Homo sapiens: one gene and its partners. The protein of the gene in region 1 interacts with the protein of each later gene in a pairwise test. Each region holds a gene or a part of one and is shown in the gene's direction. Other genes may lie near its edges.

Region 1 (3,653 bases):
CTGGCTTCTGCAGGAAGAGGAGGTGTGTTTTACCACCCACCACACTGGGTGTTTGCTTGCACATTGCTGTATCCCTTCTCACCTCCATTAGTGAACTGTCCACCTGAGGAATTTTTCCTCCCTACCACTTCTAATGGAATATTCTGCTAGAACAATCTTCCCCCTCCCTCACCTGTAAGAACTGGCTAAACTAGAAACATTCCACAATGTTTCTTTTTTCTTTTTCTTTTTTTTTTTTTGAGATGGAGTTTCGCTCTTGTTGCCCAGGCTGGAGTGCAATGGCACGATCTCGGCTCACTGCACTCTCCACCTCCCAGGTTCAAGTGATTCTCCTGTCTCAGCTTCCTGAGTAGCTAGGATTACAGGCACGCACCACCCACACCCTCTAATTTTTGTATTTTTTGTAGAGACGGGGTTTCACCATGTTGGCTAGGCTGGTCTCCAACTCATGACCTCAGGCGATCTGCCTGCCCCAGCCTCCCAAAGTGCTGGGATTACAGGCGTGAGCCACCACTCCTGGCCTCTTTTTTTTTTTTTCTTCTTTGAGACAGAGTCTCACTCTTACTCAGGCTGGAGTATAGTGGTACAATCTCAGTTTACTACAACCTCCAACTCCCGGGTTCAAACAATGCTCATGCCTCAGCCTCCTGAGTAGCTGGAATTACAGGTGCACACCACCACGCCCAGTTAATTTTTTTTTTTTTTTTTTGAGACGGAGTCTCACTCTGTCGCCCAGGCTGGAGTGCAGTGGCGCCATCTCAGCTTACTGCAAGCTCGGCCTCCCGGGTTCATGCCATTGTCCTGCCTCAGCCCCCTGAGTAGCTGGGACTACAGGCGCCTGCCACCACGCCCGGCTAATTTTTTTATTTTTAGTAGAGACGGGGTTTCACCATGTTAGCCAGGATGGTCTTGATCTCCTGACCTTGTGATCCGCCTGCCTCGGCCTCCCAAAGTGCTGGGATTACAGGCGTGAGCCACCGTGCCTGGCCAATTTTTGTATTTTTAGCAGAGACAGGGTTTCATCATGTTGGCCAGGCTAGTCTTGAACTCCTGACTGCAGACGATCTGCCTGCCTTGGCCTTCCAAAGTGCTGGGATTATAGGTGTGAGCCACTGTGCCTGGCCCACAGTGTTTCTTTTTTTTTCTTTTGAGATGGAGTTTCGCTCTTGTTGCCCAGGCTGGCGTGCAATGGCATGATTCCAGCTCACTGCAACCTCCGCCTCCTGGGTTCAAGCGATTCTCCTGCCTCAGCCTCCCAAGTAGCTGGGATTACAGGCATGCGCCACCACGCCCAGCTAATATTGTATTTTTAGTAGAGATGGGGTTTAGCTGTGTTGGTCAGGCTGGTCTCAAACTCCTGACCTCAGGTGATCCACCTGCCTTGGCCTCCCAAAGTGCTGGGATTACAGGTGTGAGCCACTGCACCCAGCCCACAATGTTTCTTAGAAGGTAGTTTTCTCTGTATCACAGCAGCTCAGTTCTATAAATGTTTAATTTTGTTGTATGCATTGAATACCATGCTATCCTTGTTTGTGGATGGGACAAGGTGGACAGGTGTGTCCACTCCTATGCCTGGGAGTACAGCATGGTGCCAGGAGGGAGAAAAGCTAGGGCTCAGTGTCTTGGGAATTATGCCAAGCCGGCTGGTGCTGGACTGTGATTATCTTTGAGGATGGGCTTTGGGGCCCCATAGAGCTCTTTTCTGTTATGGGAGGTTTCTAGGATCAAACAGCTATGACCACCATCATCACATTCCTGGCTACTCCACACTATGGAGCTGCGTAATGATGCCCTGTACTATGCTACTGGCTGAAGCATTTGGCACACACCCTTTCTGATCCTCACAACAGCTGAGTGAGGTGGCATTATTACCTTTATTTGTAAATGTGAGAAAACAGAGGCAAAAAGAGGTTAAGTGACCCATTCGGAGTCATAGAGCAAGAAAGTGGCTAAGTCCAGATTTGAGAGCAGGTCTGAGCAAAGCCTGCCTGAAATTTGCTTTTAGTCATCTTGTTTTGTTTTGCCATTTACCTTTTTGTATAATTTTTCTATTGCTCTCTGTTAGTCAAATTATTTTTGAAATGTCAAAAAATTTCTGTGCAGAAAATAAAAACCCTCAAAATAGAGTGCTAGGAGCTCAGGGGGTGGGGGACGAATATAGTCAAGTATTAAGACACAGCTAGGCCGGGCGCGGTGGCTCACACCTGTAATCCCAGCACTTTGGAAGGCCGAGGCGGGTGGATCACGAGGTCAGGAGATCAAGACCATCCTGGCTAACATGGTGAAACCCCATCTCTGCTAAAGGTACAAAAATTAGCCGGGCATGGTGGTGGCAGGCACCTGTAGTCCCAGCTACTTGGAGGCTGAGGCGGGAGAATGGCGTGAAGCCGGGAGGCAGAGCTTGCAGTGATCCGAGATCGTGCCACTGCACTCCAGCCTGGGCGACAGAGTGAGACTCCATCTCAAAAAAAAAAAAAAAAAAAAAGACACAGCTCCCACTGCCGTCAAAAAACGTGGAGCTGGTGAGGTGGTTCATGCCTATAATCCCAGCACTTTCGGAAGCCAAGGCAGGAGGATCGCTTCAGCCCAGGAGTTGGAGACCAGCCTGGGCAACATAGTAAGACCTTGTCTCTAAAGAAAATTTTAAAAATTAGCTGGGCATGGTAGCACATGTCTGTAGTCCCAGCTACTCCAGAGGCTAAGGTAGGAGGATCACTTGGGCCTGGGAGTTTGAGGCTGCAGTGAGCTATGATTGCACCAACTGCATTCCAGCCTGGGCAACAGCACGAGACCCTGCCTCAAAAAAAAAAAAAAAGGCATGTGGACTGGCTCAGTGGGGTGGCCCGAGGTTCGGATGGGCTGTAGGGCAACACTGATCCATGGCTGCAGGAGTTGAGGAAGGGATGTAGTTGTGAGGATGGAAGTCAGAGCTTCCTTCAACGGGTGGCCCCACATGGCAGAGGAGCCCACTGTGGGCGTGACTTCCCTCCTCTCTGTCTCACTCAACCTTGGGTCTGTCAGTGTGATCTGCTGGGAGATTTCTAAGCTTCTAAGACAGCACCCTATAAGGGACCCAGGTGGGGAATAGACCGTGACCAGCCAGCGACCCCTACTACCCGTCACTCAAAAGCACTAGCACCTTCAGCCACTCCTCCTGGGGATGGGTCAGACTTAGTTTTTTAGAAAAGCAGAGTGTTAGGTTCTTAGCTTGGAAGAGGGCAGACAGGCCAGTCCTGATACCTGATGGGGCATACCATCTCCCCTGATTTTCTGGTCCTGTTAGAATTTTCCATCTGAGAATTGGGAGGGTATTGACCTCCGCTTGGTTTCCCCATGATGTGTGGGGATCAGACCCCTGGATAACGAAGGTGTTGTTGAGGGTGGGTAGGAGAGCCTCCCCTGAGTTCTCAGTACCCCTTTGCCTCTCGTGCCCACTGCAGAGGCAGCTTGCCAACTACAACTTTGACTTCCGGAGCTGGCCAGTCGACTTCCACTGGGAAGAACCCAGCAGCCGGTGAGGCCCCAGTTCTTTTGCTGTATCTCTCCCCTTAGAACCATTCCAGAAAATCTCTGCTCTGCCCTCCCACCTCCATGCCCTCTCAGGTCACAGTGCCTGCCTTCCAATGCCATTATGTCGTTCCTAGACCCCACTG
Region 2 (3,338 bases), on another chromosome or scaffold:
TTATGGGATAATCCAGCTGCCTGGGCACCACACTGAAGGTAATGGGATAATCCGGCTGCCTGGGCACCACACTGAAGGTAATGGGATAATCCGGCTGCCTGGGCACCACAGTGAGGGTTATGGGATAATCCAGCTGCCTGGGCACCATAGTGAAGGTAATGGGATAATCCAGCTGCCTGGGCACCACAGTGAGGGTTATGGGATAATCCAGCTGCCTGGGCACCACACTGAAGGTAATGGGATAATCCGGCTGCCTGGGCACCACACTGAAGGTAATGGGATAATCCGGCTGCCTGGGCACCACAGTGAGGGTTATGGGATAATCCAGCTGCCTGGGCACCATAGTGAAGGTAATGGGATAATCCAGCTGCCTGGGCACCACACTGAAGGTAATGGGATAATCCGGCTGCCTGGGCACCACACTGAAGGTAATGGGATAATCCGGCTGCCTGGGCACCACAGTGAGGGTTATGGGATAATCCAGCTGCCTGGGCACCATAGTGAAGGTAATGGGATAATCCAGCTGCCTGGGCACCACAGTGAGGGTTATGGGATAATCCAGCTGCCTGGGCACCACACTGAAGGTAATGGGATAATCCGGCTGCCTGGGCACCACACTGAAGGTAATGGGATAATCCGGCTGCCTGGGCACCACAGTGAGGGTTATGGGATAATCCAGCTGCCTGGGCACCATAGTGAAGGTAATGGGATAATCCGGCTGCCTGGGCACCACAGTGAGGGTTATGGGATAATCCAGCTGCCTGGGCACCATAGTGAAGGTAATGGGATAATCCAGCTGCCTGGGCACCATAGTGAAGGTAATGGGATAATCCAGCTGCCTGGGCACCATAGTGAAGGTAATGGGATAATCCAGCTGCCTGGGCACCATAGTGAAGGTAATGGGATAATCCAGCTGCCTGGGCACCATAGTGAAGGTAATGGGATAATCCAGCTGCCTGGGCACCATAGTGAAGGTAATGGGATAATCCAGCTGCCTGGGCACCACAGTGAGGGTTATGGGAGACGGGGTTTCACCGTGTCAGCCAGGATGGTCTCGATCTCCTGACCTCATGATCCTCCCACCTCAGCCTCCCAAAGTGCTGGGATTACAGGCGTGAGCCGCGGCGCCCGGCAGAGGTGAGGGCTTTGGGGGAACGGTTGTGGGGCCTGGAGTGTGGAGGCGTCAGCGCAGGCCTGGCAGGAGCCCTGAACCGGGACAGTGGGGTCCTGCAGCTGCTGGCCTGGGGTGTGGAGACCCCCAACACAGGGGAAGTCTCCAGGACCCCACACCACTAACAAGATGAGCCTTGTGCTCCCTTGGGCTCTAGAGAGGAAGCCCCTCTTAGCCCTCAGCCCCTCTTTCCTCCCTCTCCTAAAGTAATTTGATCCTCAGGAATTTGTTCCGCCCTCATCTGGCCCCGGCCAAATCCCGATTTGACAAATGCCAGGAAAAGGAAACTGTTGAGAAACCGAAACTACTGGGGAAAGGGAGGGCTCACTGAGAACCATCCCAGTAACCCGACCGCCGCTGGTCTTCGCTGGACACCATGAATCACACTGTCCAAACCTTCTTCTCTCCTGTCAACAGTGGCCAGCCCCCCAACTATGAGATGCTCAAGGAGGAGCACGAGGTGGCTGTGCTGGGGGCGCCCCACAACCCTGCTCCCCCGACGTCCACCGTGATCCACATCCGCAGCGAGACCTCCGTGCCCGACCATGTCGTCTGGTCCCTGTTCAACACCCTCTTCATGAACCCCTGCTGCCTGGGCTTCATAGCATTCGCCTACTCCGTGAAGGTGCGTATGGCCCCAGGGAATGCTCAGAGGGTGCCGCTGAGCCTGGAGCTCCACCTGCCCACATGCTGCCTGGGGTGGGGACTTGTGTGTCCCTGTGACTGTGAGTTTGTGTGCACCTCTGTCCCGTGTGTGCCCACGTCAGTGGCTTTGTCTGTGTGATCTGTGTGTGTGTGTGGCTTGGGGAATCTGCCCAGTGCAGGTTTAGGAGGAGGCTCCAGGAGGCTGGCTGGCTGGCTCAGAGTCTGTCCCCGGCTATCCACTAGCCCAGAGCAGTTCTCCCTATAGCCCAGTAAGAAATTACACCTTCACCTTCCAGACTGGCACCCAGGCTCTCCCAGAAAGTGAGAAGGGAACTCACAGGTGACTTCACCCCATGGTGGGGAGAACAGCCTGTGCTGAGGTCAAGGCAGAAGGAGGATGAGCCCCGAGGCTCCTGGAGAGTCTGAGCCCGGGTGAGGAAGGGGAGGAGGTGGTCCCTGATCTCAGGGCGGGGAGAGCCAATGAGGAGACGGAGCCATAGCACGCGGCTCTCAGCTGGGGGATCCTGGTCCCCTCACCATCTCCTCTCCCCCAGTCTAGGGACAGGAAGATGGTTGGCGACGTGACCGGGGCCCAGGCCTATGCCTCCACCGCCAAGTGCCTGAACATCTGGGCCCTGATTCTGGGCATCCTCATGACCATTCTGCTCATCGTCATCCCAGTGCTGATCTTCCAGGCCTATGGATAGATCAGGAGGCATCACTGAGGCCAGGAGCTCTGCCCATGACCTGTATCCCACGTACTCCAACTTCCATTCCTCGCCCTGCCCCCGGAGCCGAGTCCTGTATCAGCCCTTTATCCTCACACGCTTTTCTACAATGGCATTCAATAAAGTGCACGTGTTTCTGGTGCTGCTGCGACTTCACCTGGGGAGGGGTCTGGCTGAGGGTTCGGAGCGTGGTTCTGAGACTGAGCAGGTTGGTCAGCCCCTGCACTGCCCCTTCCGGCCTCTGTGCATCTCTTGGGGACCGGGCAAGTGCTCAGGCCTTCTGGTTTCGGGCCTCCTGCCGTGAGCAGCAGCTGGATCCAGGACCCTGGGAGGAGTTCCTGTGTCCTGCAGGTCTCAGCTCCTACTCAACGTGGGCTCTTTCCGGGAACGTCAGTGCTGAGTCCGGGACACCCTGGGCCCAAGGCCACGCTCGCGGCCTGTCGGCAATCCAGGCTGTCGGCTCAGGACAGAGGGAAGGGTTAAGCCCCCAGCAGGGCCAGGGAGGGGCAAGGTGGCACCGGCTCCCCAGCTGCTCCCAGGCCCTGCTCTGTGGTGCTGGGGACCTGGCTTTAGTTCCTCGGGGTGGAGGGGGCACCGCGCTGCCTGCCTCCGAGCTGTCTGGAGCAGCCAGTCCTGCAGATGTGGGCAGCTCAGGGCCCGTGGGAGGGAGGGGGCTTTGTGCCCAGGGCAGCAGCTGAAGGAGCCCCGGGCCTCGCAGCCCCTCCTGGGTGACCAGGTGCTGCTTCGTGGCAGCTGCCCCCTCCCGTCCAGCGGGTATGGGCCCTGCTCCCCCG
Region 3 (3,653 bases), on another chromosome or scaffold:
TAAATGACAGAAATTGATTTTTCTAGTTCTGCAAGGTGAAGATCAAGCACCAGCAGATTTGGTGACTATTGAGGGCCTATTCCTGGTTCATAGATGTCACCTTCTGGCTGTTTCCTCACATGGTGGATGGAGCAAGCTAGCCCTCTGGGGTCTCTTTTATAAAGGTACTAATCACATTCATGAGGGCTCTACCCTCATGACTTAATCACCTCCCAAAGGTCCCACTTCTTAATACCATCACTTTGGGGGGTTAGGATTTCAACATGAATTTTGTGGGGGATACCAGCAAACATTCAGACTATAGCTGGGTAGCTGGCAGAAAGCTCCCCTACCCCACATGTGGATGGAAAAACAATGTCTATTTGCTTCCCATTCTTCAGGCACTTCCTTTCCCTGTTGGATCTAGTAGATTGGAGATGCATGGTTTTCTTCTTTTGAAATGACACTGCTGGTTTTTCCAGTAGATTTGCCCCCTCTTTTTAACAAAAATAATTGTAAAAGCAGTTAGAAATTGTTCAGGAAAATATTACCTGTAATTATAACATGTGAATGCTATTATTTTCATTTTTGTCTGCATATATCCCTCGATATTCAAACTTTTGCTGTCCAAACTTGGGAACCAAATAGATTTCTTCAGTAAAGGGTATCTGACATCCTAATCTTTGTCTCTACCCTTGGTCATTTTTATGTAATTGCAGTCAAAGTGTTCGTAATAATTTGCAGTCACTAGTACACACATTTAGTTTTGTTTAAATGCTAAAAACTGTAACACTTGTGGAAGGTTCTGCTGGATATTCCAACATAAAAATGAAATTCACCAATCTTGTTCCTAGGATATTCCCCTGAGTATAGCACATGCTGTGTAGTTCTGTGCCAATAACTGCAAATGAAATGGGTTAGGAGGAGAGTACTGTCCTAATAGTGGAAAGAACACTGGATTGAAAGTTAAGAGTGCTTAAGTGTATTTGAGGTATATGCTTTTGCTTCTTAGCAAATAACTAATGCGATCATCTTGAAGAAGTAGGGGTTAGGTCTTCCTCTGTACTCTGAAAGTAGGTTGTCTTTCCTCCGTTAAAATGAATCTTACTTACCTGTAAATGAAGGACCTCATTCAGAGTGTCCTCATAATATGATGCTTCTCACTAATTGATACAGCATTTTGTGGAAAATTCTTAAATGAAGATGTCTTCTTTCAGTCTGGCCGGGACCTTCAACAATATCAGAGTCAGGCTAAGCAACTCTTTCGAAAGTTGAATGAACAGTCCCCTACCAGATGTACCTTGGAAGCAGGAGCCATGACTTTTCAGTGAGTGTAATCTTGATTTCTTTATGATCATTTAAGTGAAATACAGTAACAGAATGCCTGATAAAAAATAATAATTTTTAAAAAGTAAAGATTACTTAAAAATGTTGTCTTTTGGGAGGAGCAACTTCTCTGGCTCTAATTCTACAAAATGGACATCTTGTTGGTTTTTTCAGCATGCTTACAGTAATTTAACCTGTTAACATGTGTCTATGCTGTGCCCATCATGCAATAATAGATAACTTCTTGCTTTAGGACTGTCTTGGAGCCAGATATGTGTAGGTTAGTACCCTTGCTCAAACATTTCCTAACAGTGTAACTTTGAACAGCTCACATAACTTCTCTAAGCCTCAGTTTCCTCTATAAAGTAGTGAAAATAAACATAGGAGGTTTGAGAGGATTGTGAGGGAATCTGTGTGTATTACTTAGCATCTTGTCTGACACACATGGGAAGAGTCAATAATTATTAGTTATTATTATTTTGAAAAAAGAAAATTATAAAAGATAAGAGCATCTTAATCAGTGGTTATAAATGATACAGCTGATAGAGGACTCAAAGGAACATTATTGGATTTTAAATTATCTACAAATAATTGGTATTTAATGTTTAATACATGCCAAGTTTGAAGCTGACAAAATAGGAAGGATTAAAAAGGAAAAGAGTACAAGAGCATCAGAGGAAAATAAAAACGGATTAGTTAAATAATCTTTGCCATTTTAGGGACTTAGATAGTAAGATAACTTAGGCCAGGGAGGAAGCTGCTATGTTTACTTTTAAAAAACAAAACAAAAATTCTCTACCTATAAAAGACAAGTAAAAAGTACATCAAAACAAAAATAAAACCCTAGGCAATTGGCTAAGAAAATGTTGGACATTATGTTTTATGATGTATTAATTTTTATAATATCTGAAATATTTTCTAGAACTCTAATTTTCAACACCAAAAATAGTCACTCACTTAATATCTAGTATCCTCATTTTCACCATGGTTTAGAGAACCAAGACCTAGGAAAGTTCTCATGGAATTGAGAAGAGATTTTCTTCTGCCTGATTCCTTTAGGACATTCATAATCTCATATCATCCTTTATTTCCATCCAAGAGCTATTAAGGGTTTATTCTTTGCCAGACCTTATATTGAGTCCTGCATTTAATGTCCATACCTTTTAACACTGTTCTCTTAGTAGAGAGAGAGACATATACTCAAACAAGTATACTATAATATCTTAATTGAAAAGATGTTGTAAATTAGATTTAAATGAAATGTTTTGGGAACAGAGAGAAGGAAGGAACAAATTCCCATTTGTAGGGGGTAAGTTTGAAGAAACGGGACAGAGGAGGGGAGTATATATAAAGAAGTTTCACAGAAAAAATTATGGTAGAATTGAACATATGAAAATGAACAGGATTTCTCCAGGTATTTAAAAGAGCATTAACGGTTAGAAAAAACAATATAAGCAGAAGTCCACAAATATGTAAAGAACCTAGCATGTTGGAGAACAGTCCGCCATTTGGTTTATTAAAATATATGATAGAATGTTGCTTACACTTGTTTTGAAAGGCTGTAAATATAATACCATGGAGTATGATTTTATTTTGTAGGTATTAGGGAACCCTTAGAGTTTGTAAGCAGGGTAATATGGTCATCTGTAGTCTCTGGGAATAAAACTGATGGTATAGAAGATGGTGTAGACTAAAAGCAAAGAGACCAGTTAACTCAGGTGCCCAAGCAAGGAATAAGACAGCTGTATTATTAATATTATTTTAAGGGGCCTGAGAGATCATATAATAGTCTTTATCCTTTATGGAGCCCTAGGATGCCTCAGGAGCCACATAGAAAGGGCAAGGATGGGAGTATATATAATGCTTTGGGCCCCTAAACTCCTCCTTATGTTTTAAATTTTTCCCTTTTATTTTCAGTTGACATGTAATAATTATACATATTTATGGGATACAGAGTGATATTTCAATACATGTATACAATGTGTAATCAAATCAGAGTAATTAGCATATTCATCACCTCAAACATTTATCATTTCTTTGTGTTGTGAACATTCAAAATCTTGTAGCTTTTTGAAAATACGTGGTAAGTTATAGCTAGCCATATTCACCCTACAGTTCTGCAGAACACCAGAACTCATTCTTCCTATCCAGTTGTAATTTTTTATCCATTAACTTGCCTCTGCCCATCCTCCCCTTCTCTCTACCTTTCCCTACTTCTAATACCCACAATTCTACTCTCTACTTCCATGAGCTCAAAAATTTTTTTTGGCTCCTACATATGAATGAGAACATGCCATATTTATCTTTCTGTGCATGACTGATTTTATTTAACTTAATGTCCTCCAGAT

The links.
Region 2: the proteins of ABHD16A (region 1) and IFITM3 interact in binary tests that used the Homo sapiens proteins (3 or more experiments, as listed by UniProt).
Region 3: the proteins of ABHD16A (region 1) and SEC22B interact in binary tests that used the Homo sapiens proteins (3 or more experiments, as listed by UniProt).

What each region holds. Positions count from the first base shown.
Region 1 is NC_000006.12:31,693,220-31,696,872, reverse strand, and holds part of ABHD16A (phosphatidylserine lipase ABHD16A), read left to right. Parts: intron 1-3,440; coding exon 3,441-3,514; intron 3,515-3,653. UniProt on the Homo sapiens protein: Phosphatidylserine (PS) lipase that mediates the hydrolysis of phosphatidylserine to generate lysophosphatidylserine (LPS). LPS constitutes a class of signaling lipids that regulates immunological and neurological processes.
Region 2 is NC_000011.10:319,023-322,360, reverse strand, and holds IFITM3 (interferon-induced transmembrane protein 3), read left to right. Parts: upstream 1-1,500; 5' UTR 1,501-1,547; coding exon 1,548-1,796; intron 1,797-2,370; coding exon 2,371-2,523; 3' UTR 2,524-2,685; downstream 2,686-3,338.
Region 3 is NC_000001.11:120,166,493-120,170,145, reverse strand, and holds part of SEC22B (vesicle-trafficking protein SEC22b), read left to right. Parts: intron 1-1,196; coding exon 1,197-1,306; intron 1,307-3,653. UniProt on the Homo sapiens protein: SNARE involved in targeting and fusion of ER-derived transport vesicles with the Golgi complex as well as Golgi-derived retrograde transport vesicles with the ER.